Regions from separate parts of the Homo sapiens genome. Here region 1 is linked to region 2. Evidence: fine-mapped expression QTL. A gene starts in region 2. The other region holds a variant in brackets. All regions are shown on one strand. Distances are between the middles of the regions.

What was found. PIP is the estimated chance that this variant, and not a neighbour inherited with it, causes the effect.
Region 1: its variant is the best candidate, but not a certain one, in a credible set for the expression of FGF22 in esophagus mucosa (GTEx, PIP 0.66).

The regions. Positions count from the first base shown.
Region 1 is chr19:614,922-620,264 of GRCh38, forward strand. It overlaps HCN2 (hyperpolarization activated cyclic nucleotide gated potassium and sodium channel 2), which reads left to right. Exons shown (of 8, transcript NM_001194.4): 8 at 874-2,238. The coding sequence ends at 1,553. POLRMT (RNA polymerase mitochondrial) reads right to left here. Exons shown (of 21, transcript NM_005035.4): 12 at 5,037-5,159; 13 at 4,665-4,844; 14 at 4,289-4,375; 15 at 4,076-4,189; 16 at 3,784-3,839; 17 at 3,567-3,665; 18 at 2,856-2,928; 19 at 2,649-2,734; 20 at 2,498-2,559; 21 at 2,300-2,402. The coding sequence ends at 2,353. Among named protein-coding and RNA genes, the nearest start is that of POLRMT, 16 kb to the right of the region's middle. The variant G/A (reference allele first, on the strand shown) is at 2,693.
Region 2 is chr19:636,730-642,088 of GRCh38, forward strand. FGF22 (fibroblast growth factor 22) reads left to right here and starts at 3,150. Exons shown (of 3, transcript NM_020637.2): 1 at 3,150-3,410. The coding sequence starts at 3,197. It overlaps LOC105372234 (a long non-coding RNA gene), which reads left to right. Exons shown (of 2, transcript XR_936226.2): 2 at 1-1,577. RefSeq lists enhancers at 332-391, 1,766-2,491 and a silencer at 2,833-3,322.

The sequences.
Region 1 (5,343 bases), 22 kb before region 2:
CTGAAACGCAGGACAGGTGCGACGGAGTGGTGTCAGGGAGCTCCCTGGTGTACAGTAGGAAGCTCTCCACAACTTGCTCTATACAGTGAGTATGCAACCCGTTCCTGAGTATCAGGTGCTTAGGTTATAACTTCTGTATACAGCAGGTGCTCAGCACAGGCTGTGTACAGGCAGGTGTTTTCGGTATGCCTGTGGCACACTGGAGGCAGTCATTACATAATCAGCGTATACAGGTGGTACACATGCATACTTGGTGCACAGTGATACCTGCTCCATGTACACAGCAGGCATTAAATACCTGTTTACTGCCAGGCGCGGTGGCTCACGCCTGTAGTCCCAGCACTTTCGGAGGCCAAGGTGGGTGGATCACGAGGTCAGGAGATTGAGACCATCCTGGCTAACATGGTGAAACCCCGTCTCTACTAAAAAAAAAATACAAAAAATTAGCCGGGTGTGGTGGCGGGCGCCTGTAGTCCCAGCTACTCGGGAGGATGAGGCAGGAGAATGGTGTGAACCCGGGAGGTGGACCTTGCAGTGGGCCGAGATCGCGCCACTGCACTCCAGCCCGGGCGACAGAGCAAGACTCCGTCTCAGAAACAAAGCAAAACAAAAGCCCTGCTTTCTGTATGCAGGTGCTTCATGCATGCTGGCTGTGCATAGCAGGTGCTCAGCCTGTATATGGCAGGTACTCAATATCCATACTATAGGCCAGAGATGCTACATATGTGCTTATTGTATACAGTAGGTGGTAAATGCATGCTTGCTCTACACGGCAAGCACTGTGTGCGCACCCGCGGTGCAGAGTAGGTGCTCGGTGCCCGCTGTACGCAGCAGGCGCTCCCTGTGCACACGCTAACGCCCCCTCTCCCGCAGGCAAGAAGAATTCCATCCTCCTGCACAAGGTGCAGCATGACCTCAACTCGGGCGTATTCAACAACCAGGAGAACGCCATCATCCAGGAGATCGTCAAGTACGACCGCGAGATGGTGCAGCAGGCCGAGCTGGGTCAGCGCGTGGGCCTCTTCCCGCCGCCGCCGCCGCCGCCGCAGGTCACCTCGGCCATCGCCACGCTGCAGCAGGCGGCGGCCATGAGCTTCTGCCCGCAGGTGGCGCGGCCGCTCGTGGGGCCGCTGGCGCTCGGCTCGCCGCGCCTCGTGCGCCGCCCGCCCCCGGGGCCCGCACCTGCCGCCGCCTCACCCGGGCCCCCGCCCCCCGCCAGCCCCCCGGGCGCGCCCGCCAGCCCCCGGGCACCGCGGACCTCGCCCTACGGCGGCCTGCCCGCCGCCCCCCTTGCTGGGCCCGCCCTGCCCGCGCGCCGCCTGAGCCGCGCGTCGCGCCCACTGTCCGCCTCGCAGCCCTCGCTGCCTCACGGCGCCCCCGGCCCCGCGGCCTCCACACGCCCGGCCAGCAGCTCCACACCGCGCTTGGGGCCCACGCCCGCTGCCCGGGCCGCCGCGCCCAGCCCGGACCGCAGGGACTCGGCCTCACCCGGCGCCGCCGGCGGCCTGGACCCCCAGGACTCCGCGCGCTCGCGCCTCTCGTCCAACTTGTGACCCTCGCCGACCGCCCCGCGGGCCCAGGCGGGCCGGGGGCGGGGCCGTCATCCAGACCAAAGCCATGCCATTGCGCTGCCCCGGCCGCCAGTCCGCCCAGAAGCCATAGACGAGACGTAGGTAGCCGTAGTTGGACGGACGGGCAGGGCCGGCGGGGCAGCCCCCTCCGCGCCCCCGGCCGTCCCCCCTCATCGCCCCGCGCCCACCCCCATCGCCCCTGCCCCCGGCGGCGGCCTCGCGTGCGAGGGGGCTCCCTTCACCTCGGTGCCTCAGTTCCCCCAGCTGTAAGACAGGGACGGGGCGGCCCAGTGGCTGAGAGGAGCCGGCTGTGGAGCCCCGCCCGCCCCCCACCCTCTAGGTGGCCCCCGTCCGAGGAGGATCGTTTTCTAAGTGCAATACTTGGCCCGCCGGCTTCCCGCTGCCCCCATCGCGCTCACGCAATAACCGGCCCGGCCCCCGTCCGCGCGCGTCCCCCGGTGACCTCGGGGAGCAGCACCCCGCCTCCCTCCAGCACTGGCACCGAGAGGCAGGCCTGGCTGCGCAGGGCGCGGGGGGGAGGCTGGGGTCCCGCCGCCGTGATGAATGTACTGACGAGCCGAGGCAGCAGTGCCCCCACCGTGGCCCCCCACGCCCCATTAACCCCCACACCCCCATTCCGCGCAATAAACGACAGCATTGGCGCCAAGCCTGGCCGCGTGTGATTGCCCGAGACCCGCAGGGCGTGCACCCTTCCTGAAGACAGTGGCTCCTGGGGGTGGCAAAAGAGCTTTATTTACACACTGACAAGGCTCACGGGGTGTCAGCTGAAGAAGTAGGTGGAACGCTTCACCTGCTCCAGGTCGAAGGCCCCTGCGGAGGAAGCAGAGCGGACGGCGTGGGTGGCGGGAAAGCCCCGCCCTGGCCCGCAGTTCGAGCCACCCTTGCGAGGCTGCCCACCCGCCTACCTGGCTTGGGCACCGCCTGCAGTGTCTCCTTCAGCTGGCTGGCCTCCAAGATCTTCTGGGGCCTGGGGTTGGAAGCAGGGTGGGGTGAGGCTGAGGCCAGGTTTTGGGGTGGGGGGGGAATCCAGGTAGTTGGGGTCAGGGAGCGCCTTACTCAGAGCAGAACCGCTTGACCAGGAATCTGGACAGGTCCTGCAG[G/A]ATGGGCTCGCTGTGCAAGCGGACAAACTGCTCCCGGCACACCTGGGCAGGAGTCAGAGGATCCCCAGGGGTGATCAGGCAGGCTCTGGGCACCACCCCTACCCAACGCCCCAGTGTGGGGGCCCCACCCATGGGTGGACTGAGGCTCAGACTACGGGGGCACCTGGTTCATGACGGAGACATCAGCTGCGTGAGTCCAGTAACAGTCGTGCACAGAGACGAAGGTCAGGCCCTTCCTGTGGCAGAGCGGAGGACTCCTGAAGGGAGGGGAGCTCACAGGGCCACCCAGTGACCAGCATCCTGGCCCTGCGCTCAGCCCCCTCCACTTGAGGTCCAGGGAAGCCCACCCTCCTGCAGGCCTCGCCCCACCCCTCGCCCCGCCCCTCCCCAAACATCCTGGGTTAGGTATCAGTACAGGGGGAGGAAATGTTCCCAGAAGCCTCCTCGCCCCACCCCTGCCGCCCCCCACGCTGCTGTGGGAGCCTCAGCTCCGAGGGCGGCTACGAGGTCCCCTCCTGCCAGGGCCACCACCCCGCATCCTGAGCATTCCCAGCTCCCGTGGCCGGTAGATTCTGCTGGAACGACCTCCACGTGCTCCAGATCTAACCACACATCGCGGTGCCAAGAAATGCCCAGCAGGAAGGGGCAGCGCCCATGCTCGGCTCTCCCTGTCGGGCCACAGGAGGGGAGCTGCCAGGACCACCTACATTCGGGGCACACAGCCTCAGGGCCTCTACACAGGCCCCACAGACACAGCAGATCCACTCTGCCCAGTCCCTGCCCCCAGCTAGACCCAGCCTTGCCAGCTGTGCCCTGCTAGCCAGAAGACGCCCCTGGGAGGCGAGCGGCACCCACGCCGTCCGGAGACGCCCACCTGTAGCAGTGCAGGGCGGTGAGCATCATGTGGGAGGAGTCCAGCGAGTGGATGAAGTTGGGCGGGAAGCCGTTCTTCTGCTTACGTGTGTTGGGCTTTCTGAGGACGGAACAGGTGCCGGTGGGGGCGGCCCAGGGACACCCCTAACTGGCCGCTGTCTCCACCGTGGCTGCTCTCCAGACCCCCGGCCAGGCCCCAGCCCGGGCCCCCCACTCACCGGCTGATGTCTCCGTTGTGGGTGTAGGTGATGCTCTGAATTCCACCTCCTATTTGCTAAAAAGGGGAAGGGGCCGGTGAGTCCCACCCGAGGCCCAGCACGGTGGTGGTACATTGAGGTGGTGGTACACTGGGGTAGTGGCACGCTAGGATGGTGGCACACTGGCGCGGGATGGGGTGGCACACTGGGGCGGTGGTACACTGGGGTGGTGGTACGCTGGGGCACTGGTACACTGGGACGCTGTTACACTGGGATGGTGGCACACTGGGGAGGGATGGGGTGGTACACTGACCTTGACCTTGGAGTCCAGGCGATAGGGCTGGATGACGGGGACGCCCAGGGGTGTGACCCACTCCACCACAGAGCCCATGTGGGAGATGAGGCGGGCACTCTCGGTCAGCCAGTGCTGTGGGACACAGGCCGTCTCAGGGCAGGGGGCTCAGGCCGGGGATCCCGTCCACTTGCTTAGGGAGTCCTGGCCGAGCGGGGACAGGACAGGACGTACCTGGATGGCCCGGGTCCCCGAGAACATCTCCTGTAGACTCTTGAAGACCTGGCGTACGAGATAGTGAGAGGCCTCCCACACGAACTCCTGCAGAGGGCGGGCAGCAGGTGCAGGTCCTCAGGGGCTGGCCCGTTCACGCCCTACTCCCCCCTATTTCAGAGCCACTGAGGCCCAAGGCCTAGGGCCTAGCAGGGGGGCAGGGGAATGGGGCCTGGCGCCCACGCAGTCAGCAAGAAACGCCCAAGCCCTAACAGGCAGCCAGTGGTCTGGGGGAGCAGCCAGGGCTCCTGCTGGGAGGCTGGGTCGGGGGCACACCCGTCTGAGTTTTAAATGGCAGTGAAACCAACGTGTTCGCAGCGCGACATGCCTGGCGCACCTGGGGAAAGTCGCTCAGCTCCCGGAGGCGCTTCTCAATCTGCAGGCGCCCGCCATAGCGCGTGACCCCGTACACCACCGTCATCACCGTCTGCTTCACCACCTTGCGGGTGATGAAACCTTCCAGCACCTGTGCCACCCGCATGCCCCGCTGGGCGTCCTGCCTACGGAACACCTCCACCTGCACGGCGGGTGGGCCGGGGGCGCGGGTCAGCCCCGCTAGCAGCCCAGGGGCCACCAAGCACCCATGAAGCCCCCGCCCCAGCCCCACCACATCCTCAGGACAGGCCAAGGTGAGGGCACCTGGGGCCGAGACTCAGGGCTCACATTGCCCCCACGCCGAGATGCCCCCGGGCAGCAGGGCACACCCTACCTGCGCGGCCACGCCGCTGTACACGTCCTGCGGCACATCCGAGGGCTCCAGGTTGACGGAGGCGGCGCCCACGCTGTCGCGGCCCAGAGCAGCATAATGCTGCAGGCCGTTGCAAGAGCCGTCCTGAGGAAGGGGCGGCAAACGGGAGATGGAAGCTAGAGAGGCAGAGACGTGTGGGACCCCAAACCACCCCCCAGGTCGAGCCGTTCCTAGGGCCGTGCACCCCCCAGCCAAGTGCACCGGAGCCCCCGCACGCTCCCGGGAGAGACCAGGAGCCATGGCTCCCGCACACTCTAGGACCACCTCC
Region 2 (5,359 bases):
CAGCACTACGGGAGGCCGAGGCGGGCGGATCCCCTGAGGCCGGGAGCTGGAGACCAGCCTGGCTAACATGGTGAAACCCTCATCTCCAATAAAAATAACAAAAATTAGCCGGGCATGGTGGGTGCCTGTAATCCCAGCTATTCAGGAGGCTGAGGCAGAAGAATCACTTGAACCCGGGAGGCGGAGGTTGCAGGGAGCCGAGATCACACCACTGCCCTCCGGCCTGGGCGACAGAGCGAGACTCTGTCTAAAAACAAAACAAAACAAAACCCAACCAAGCAAACCCCACAGAGTCGAGAATCGCTAGATGGAAGGGGATGGCCCAGGTCCCTGGAGCCCCTGTGACAAATTACCACAAACTCGGTGCCTTAAAGCAACGTTCATTTTCTTACATTTCTGGAAATGAAAAGTCCAAAATCAGGACTGCGGGGCTGAAGTCAAGGTGTGTGGAGGCCTCGCTCCCTCCAGAGGCCCTGGGGCTCCTTCCTGCCTCTCCCAGCTTTTGAAGGCTCCAGGTGTGCTTGGCCTGCGGCCACATCACTCCCGTCTCGGTCTCTGTGGTCGCACTGCAGCCTCCTCGTCTGCCTGTGTGAAATCTCCTCCTGTCTCCGTATTGTGACCGCGTTTAGGATGCCCCAGGACAATCTTCTCCATATCGTTCAGATCTTCATGGTGTCAATATATTGAGACTCTTTTTCCAAATAAGGCAAATGTCACATTCTAGGGATCAGGGTGGGGACTTACCTTTGGGCCAACCACAGAGGCTACAAAGAGGAAGACACCACTCAATACAAAGCGTGCGCCAGCCCAGCCCTGATCGGTGTTTGTTGTTGTTGTTTTTGTTTGAGACAGAGTCTCGCTCTGTCGCCCAGGCTGGAGGGCAGTGGCATGATCTCAGCTCATTGCAACCTCCGCCTCCTGGGTTGTATAGATTCTCCTGCCTCAGCCTCCTGAGTAGCTGGGATTACAGGCGTGAAAAGGAGCAAGGCTCTGCCCCAGCCACAGCGCGGATGCACCTTGAGGATGTCATGCTCAGTGAAAGACGCCAGACACAGAAGGACACACAGTGTGTGATCCCCTTTATATGAAATGTCCACAACAGGCCCATCCACAGAGGCAGGAAGGGGATGTGTGGGTGCCGGGGGCTGGCAGAGGGGATGAGTGACAGCTGATGGGGCTTCTTCTTGCGGTGATGGAATCTTCTGGAACTAGACAGTCGTGGTGGTTGCACAACTCTACGAGGTACTAAAATCACTGAACTGGCTGGGTGCAGTGGCTCATGCCTGTAATCCCAGCACTTTGGGAGGCAGAAGCAGGTAGATCACGAGGTCAGGAGTTTGAGACCAGCCTGGCCAACATGGTAAAACTCTGTCTCTACTAAAAATACAAAAATTAGCTGGGTGTGGTGGCAGGTGCCTGTAATCCCAGCTACTCAGGAGGCTGAGGCAGGAGAATCGCTTGAACCAGGGAGGCAGAGTTTGCAGTGAGCCGAGATCGCACCACTGCACTCCAGTCTGGGTGACAGAGCCAGACTCCGTCTCAAAGAAATAATAATAAAATAAAATCACTGAACTGTACAGTGTAAGTGGGTGAATTGTGTGGTATATGAGTGATGTTTCCGAGGTGTCATTAAAGAAACTCAGACGCCTGGGGTGGGGCCAGTCTCACCGCTGTGGGTCCCATCCCCATCATTTCTCACAAGGCCCTCAGATCACCCTTCCGCGGTGGGGGGCGGACACTCTAAGAAGGGAAGACCTGGGCTCCTGCTGGCGAGAAGGCGGTGGACATTTCTTCAGTGTCTGGTGCCGCGCCCTCTGCCCAGCGTGCTCCGTGGAGGGTCTCATTGTCTTCCTCCAGACGTCTCTTTACTGGCCCATTTTACAGAGGCGGAACCGAAGCTTGGGGTGTTGGCCACAGGGCTCTAGTGTGGGAAGCCAGGCCAGGCTGGACCTCAGCCATGGGGACCCCTGTCCCTGAGACTGTGGCACCTGCCACACCCTCTGTGTGACCCGCCTAAGCCAGGAAGAGAGGGTCAGGAGATGCCTGAGCCACCAAGAAGGCATCCCAGCGTCCAGCCAGACCGGTTATCCCTCCAGAGGGCTCCCCGGCAGGACAGGCTGGTCGCCATGTCTTCAGCCTGGTGCTATTTAAAGGTGGGTGCCACCTGGGGCTGTGGCCGCAGGGCCAGGACTGGGCTGCTGGGAGCTGTGTCCCCACAGCGGAGGTCGCCGCCCCTCTCAGGCCTCGGTTTCCCCAGTTGTCAATGCCTCCACTTGGCTGTGAGTCTGTGAGGGTCACTGTGCTCACCTTTTGGGGCCCAGCGCATGGGGCAGGCAGAGGAAGGGTGGGGGCCAGCCGCCTTGCTGGGTGGTTCCCCGTGGGGCCTGGGGTATGGCTCTAAGGGAGGAGCAAGTGTGGGTGCGAATGGGGCCGCCCCATTCCTGCCGCCTCCGACGTGCCCCGCCAGCCGGCCACCGACAGGTCTACGTGGCTATCCTCCCTCCTGCCCACCTACCTGCCCAAACACACGTCCCCAGTCGTCACCTGCCCACCCACCCGCGCATTCCCACACCCTTGTGGGCCTGGCTTTCGGGAAACTACAATTTGCGGGGAGAGAAGTCCCACGAGGGCATGCCCCGGAGCCTGGCTGGTCCCACGGCTGACGCACGCGGCAGGACCTCCCGTGTCCATCTCTGTCCCCAAGCATCTCCGCCTCTGCCCCTCTCTGTCTCTGTGTCTCTCTCGTCTCTCCCGGTCATCTTCCTTGTGTCTCTTGACTGCCGCCGTCTTTCTGTCTCTGTCTCCCTCCGGGTCTCTGTCTCCCTCCAGGTCTCTGCGGCCCGCGTCTCACACTCCCGCCCCCGCAACCCGAGGTCCTAGCCCGCCCGGGGACTCGGCTGACTCACGGACACGCCCCGCGAGACAAACAACAAACGCGCGGAGGCCGAGCGCGGAGTCCCGCACGGCCGCGCCCCTGTGCACCTGGCCCCCGCCCCCGAGACGTCCCATTGGCCGGCGCCCTAGCCTGGTCCCGCCCAAGTGGACCCCGCCCCCGCCCCGAGGCACCCCATTGGCCGGCGTCCCCGCCCCAGCGAACCCGGCCCCGCCCCCGAGGCGCCCCATTGGCCCCGCCGCGCGAAGGCAGAGCCGCGGACGCCCGGGAGCGACGAGCGCGCAGCGAACCGGGTGCCGGGTCATGCGCCGCCGCCTGTGGCTGGGCCTGGCCTGGCTGCTGCTGGCGCGGGCGCCGGACGCCGCGGGAACCCCGAGCGCGTCGCGGGGACCGCGCAGCTACCCGCACCTGGAGGGCGACGTGCGCTGGCGGCGCCTCTTCTCCTCCACTCACTTCTTCCTGCGCGTGGATCCCGGCGGCCGCGTGCAGGGCACCCGCTGGCGCCACGGCCAGGACAGTGAGTGCGGGGCGGCGGGGGCCTGGGGTGGGGAGGCGGCGGGTGACGGCAACGCGGCCGCCGTCTTCACGGTGACCTGCGCCCGCGGGGGAGTCCCGGAGGCTCCTCTGTGCAGCCTCGGCCTCAGTTTCCGTGGTCTGTGAGATGGGTGCAGCCTGCCTGGTGGGAGGGTTGCACTGTTAAAGCGAAGGCTGCAGCGGCGGACCCGGCTCAGGGGCAGAGAAGCGTCCGTGTGGTACAACCCTGTGGGTGGGGCCACCCATCTGCAGGTGGGAAACTGAGGCTCCAGAGGGGCTGGGGCAGGCCCAGCTGCATGGCGGAAGCGGCGGGGGGCTGACCTCCGGACTCCTGACATCACAGAATCCAGTCAGGGCTGCCTGAGTCGGGGCCCCCTCTGCTTCTTCCCAGACACCCCATCTGGCAGGTGAGGACAAGGAGGCACACAGAAGGGATGGGACCTGCCCAGGGTCACACTGACAGGGGTGGCGGAGCTGGGTCCCCACAGGGCCCAGGACGTCACGGAGCGGGCGTCTCTGTCCCCAGGGTCTGCCGAGCACACTGAGGTAGGCCCTCAGTGTTTGTGGAATGTCAGGAGCAAGAGGAGAGGCTGGGCACAGCAGGGGATGTGGGTACCTGGAGGCCAGGGGAGTCGGTGTCCCCGCCGGGCGGGGGGCACTGGGAAGGGGGCCCGGGCCCGCTGGCTGCCGCCTGAATCACCACCATCAGGGCAGGTAATCACCCCCTGTCCTTCCCACCGCTTTCATCTGGGCGCCAAGGCCCTCATTAGGCCGCACGTGACGAGGGCGGACAGGGGACTGGCTGGGCCGGTCCATCCATGGCGGGCATGGCCAGGCGGGGTGGCCTCGGGCCGGGGCAGAGGCCTGGCTCCGCTGCCTGACCTGGAACAGTCTCTGCCTCTCTCCAAGCCTCGGTTTCCCCAGCTGGACGGTGATGGGGGTGAGGGCTAGCTGAGGGCTCTCCTGCCCTTCGTGCATTCGCTGGTCACTAATCGGGCACCTTGTGGGTGCTGTGCTCCGCATGGGGGACCCAGTGGTGACAGAGACGCCCACCCTCCTGGGGCTCCCAGAGCAGAGGCGCGCAGCAGTTAGACACGTGAACAAGGGCGCAGGTGGGTGCACAGAACAGTGAACGGTTGGCCGGGTGCAGTGGCTCACGTCGGTAATCCCAGCACTTTGGGAGGCCGAGGCGGGCAGATCACGAGGTCAGGAGATCGAGACCATCCCGGCTAACACGGTGAAACCCCGTCTCTACCAAAAATACAAAAATTAGCCGGGTGTGGTGGCGGGCGCCTGTAGTCCCAGCTACTCGGGAGGCTGAGGCAGGAGAATGACGTGAAGCCGGGAGGTGGAGCTTGCAGTGAGCTGAGATCGCGCCACTGCCCTCCACCCTGGGCGACAGAGCGAGACTCCGTCTCAAAAAAAAAAAAAAAAAAAGAACAGTGAATGACGTGAACAAGGGTGCAGGTGGGTGCGCAGAACAGTGAACGGCGGTGTTGGGAGGCACCTTGCCAGGGGAGGGGAGGTGCAGGGCGAGGAAGGGGCCAGGGGAGATCGTGACACAGACGCCCCAGAACAACCACCTCAAAGACGTTCCTGTGTGTCCTGGAAGGTCGGGCTGGGAGGCTGCCCCGAGGAGCTTTCACTTTGACAGGGAGCTGGCCGGGCACGCAGGGAACTGTACACCCAGCTGACAAAGCGGCAGACACCCAGGCCGGGGTGAGCGAGTGTGGGTGAGGAGTGGCGGCTGGCCCCAGGGTCCTTGCTGGACAAGACACTTCAGCTCAGGGTGGGGCAGGGCTCACCCAGGGCTACCCACAGACGATGGCGTCCAAATCTGGCTCTGCCACTCCCAGGCCTCAACTGGCCCCTCTGCAACGTGGGCTGCTGAGCGGGCTTGGTAGGACAGCTGGCATACAGTCGGCGCTCAAG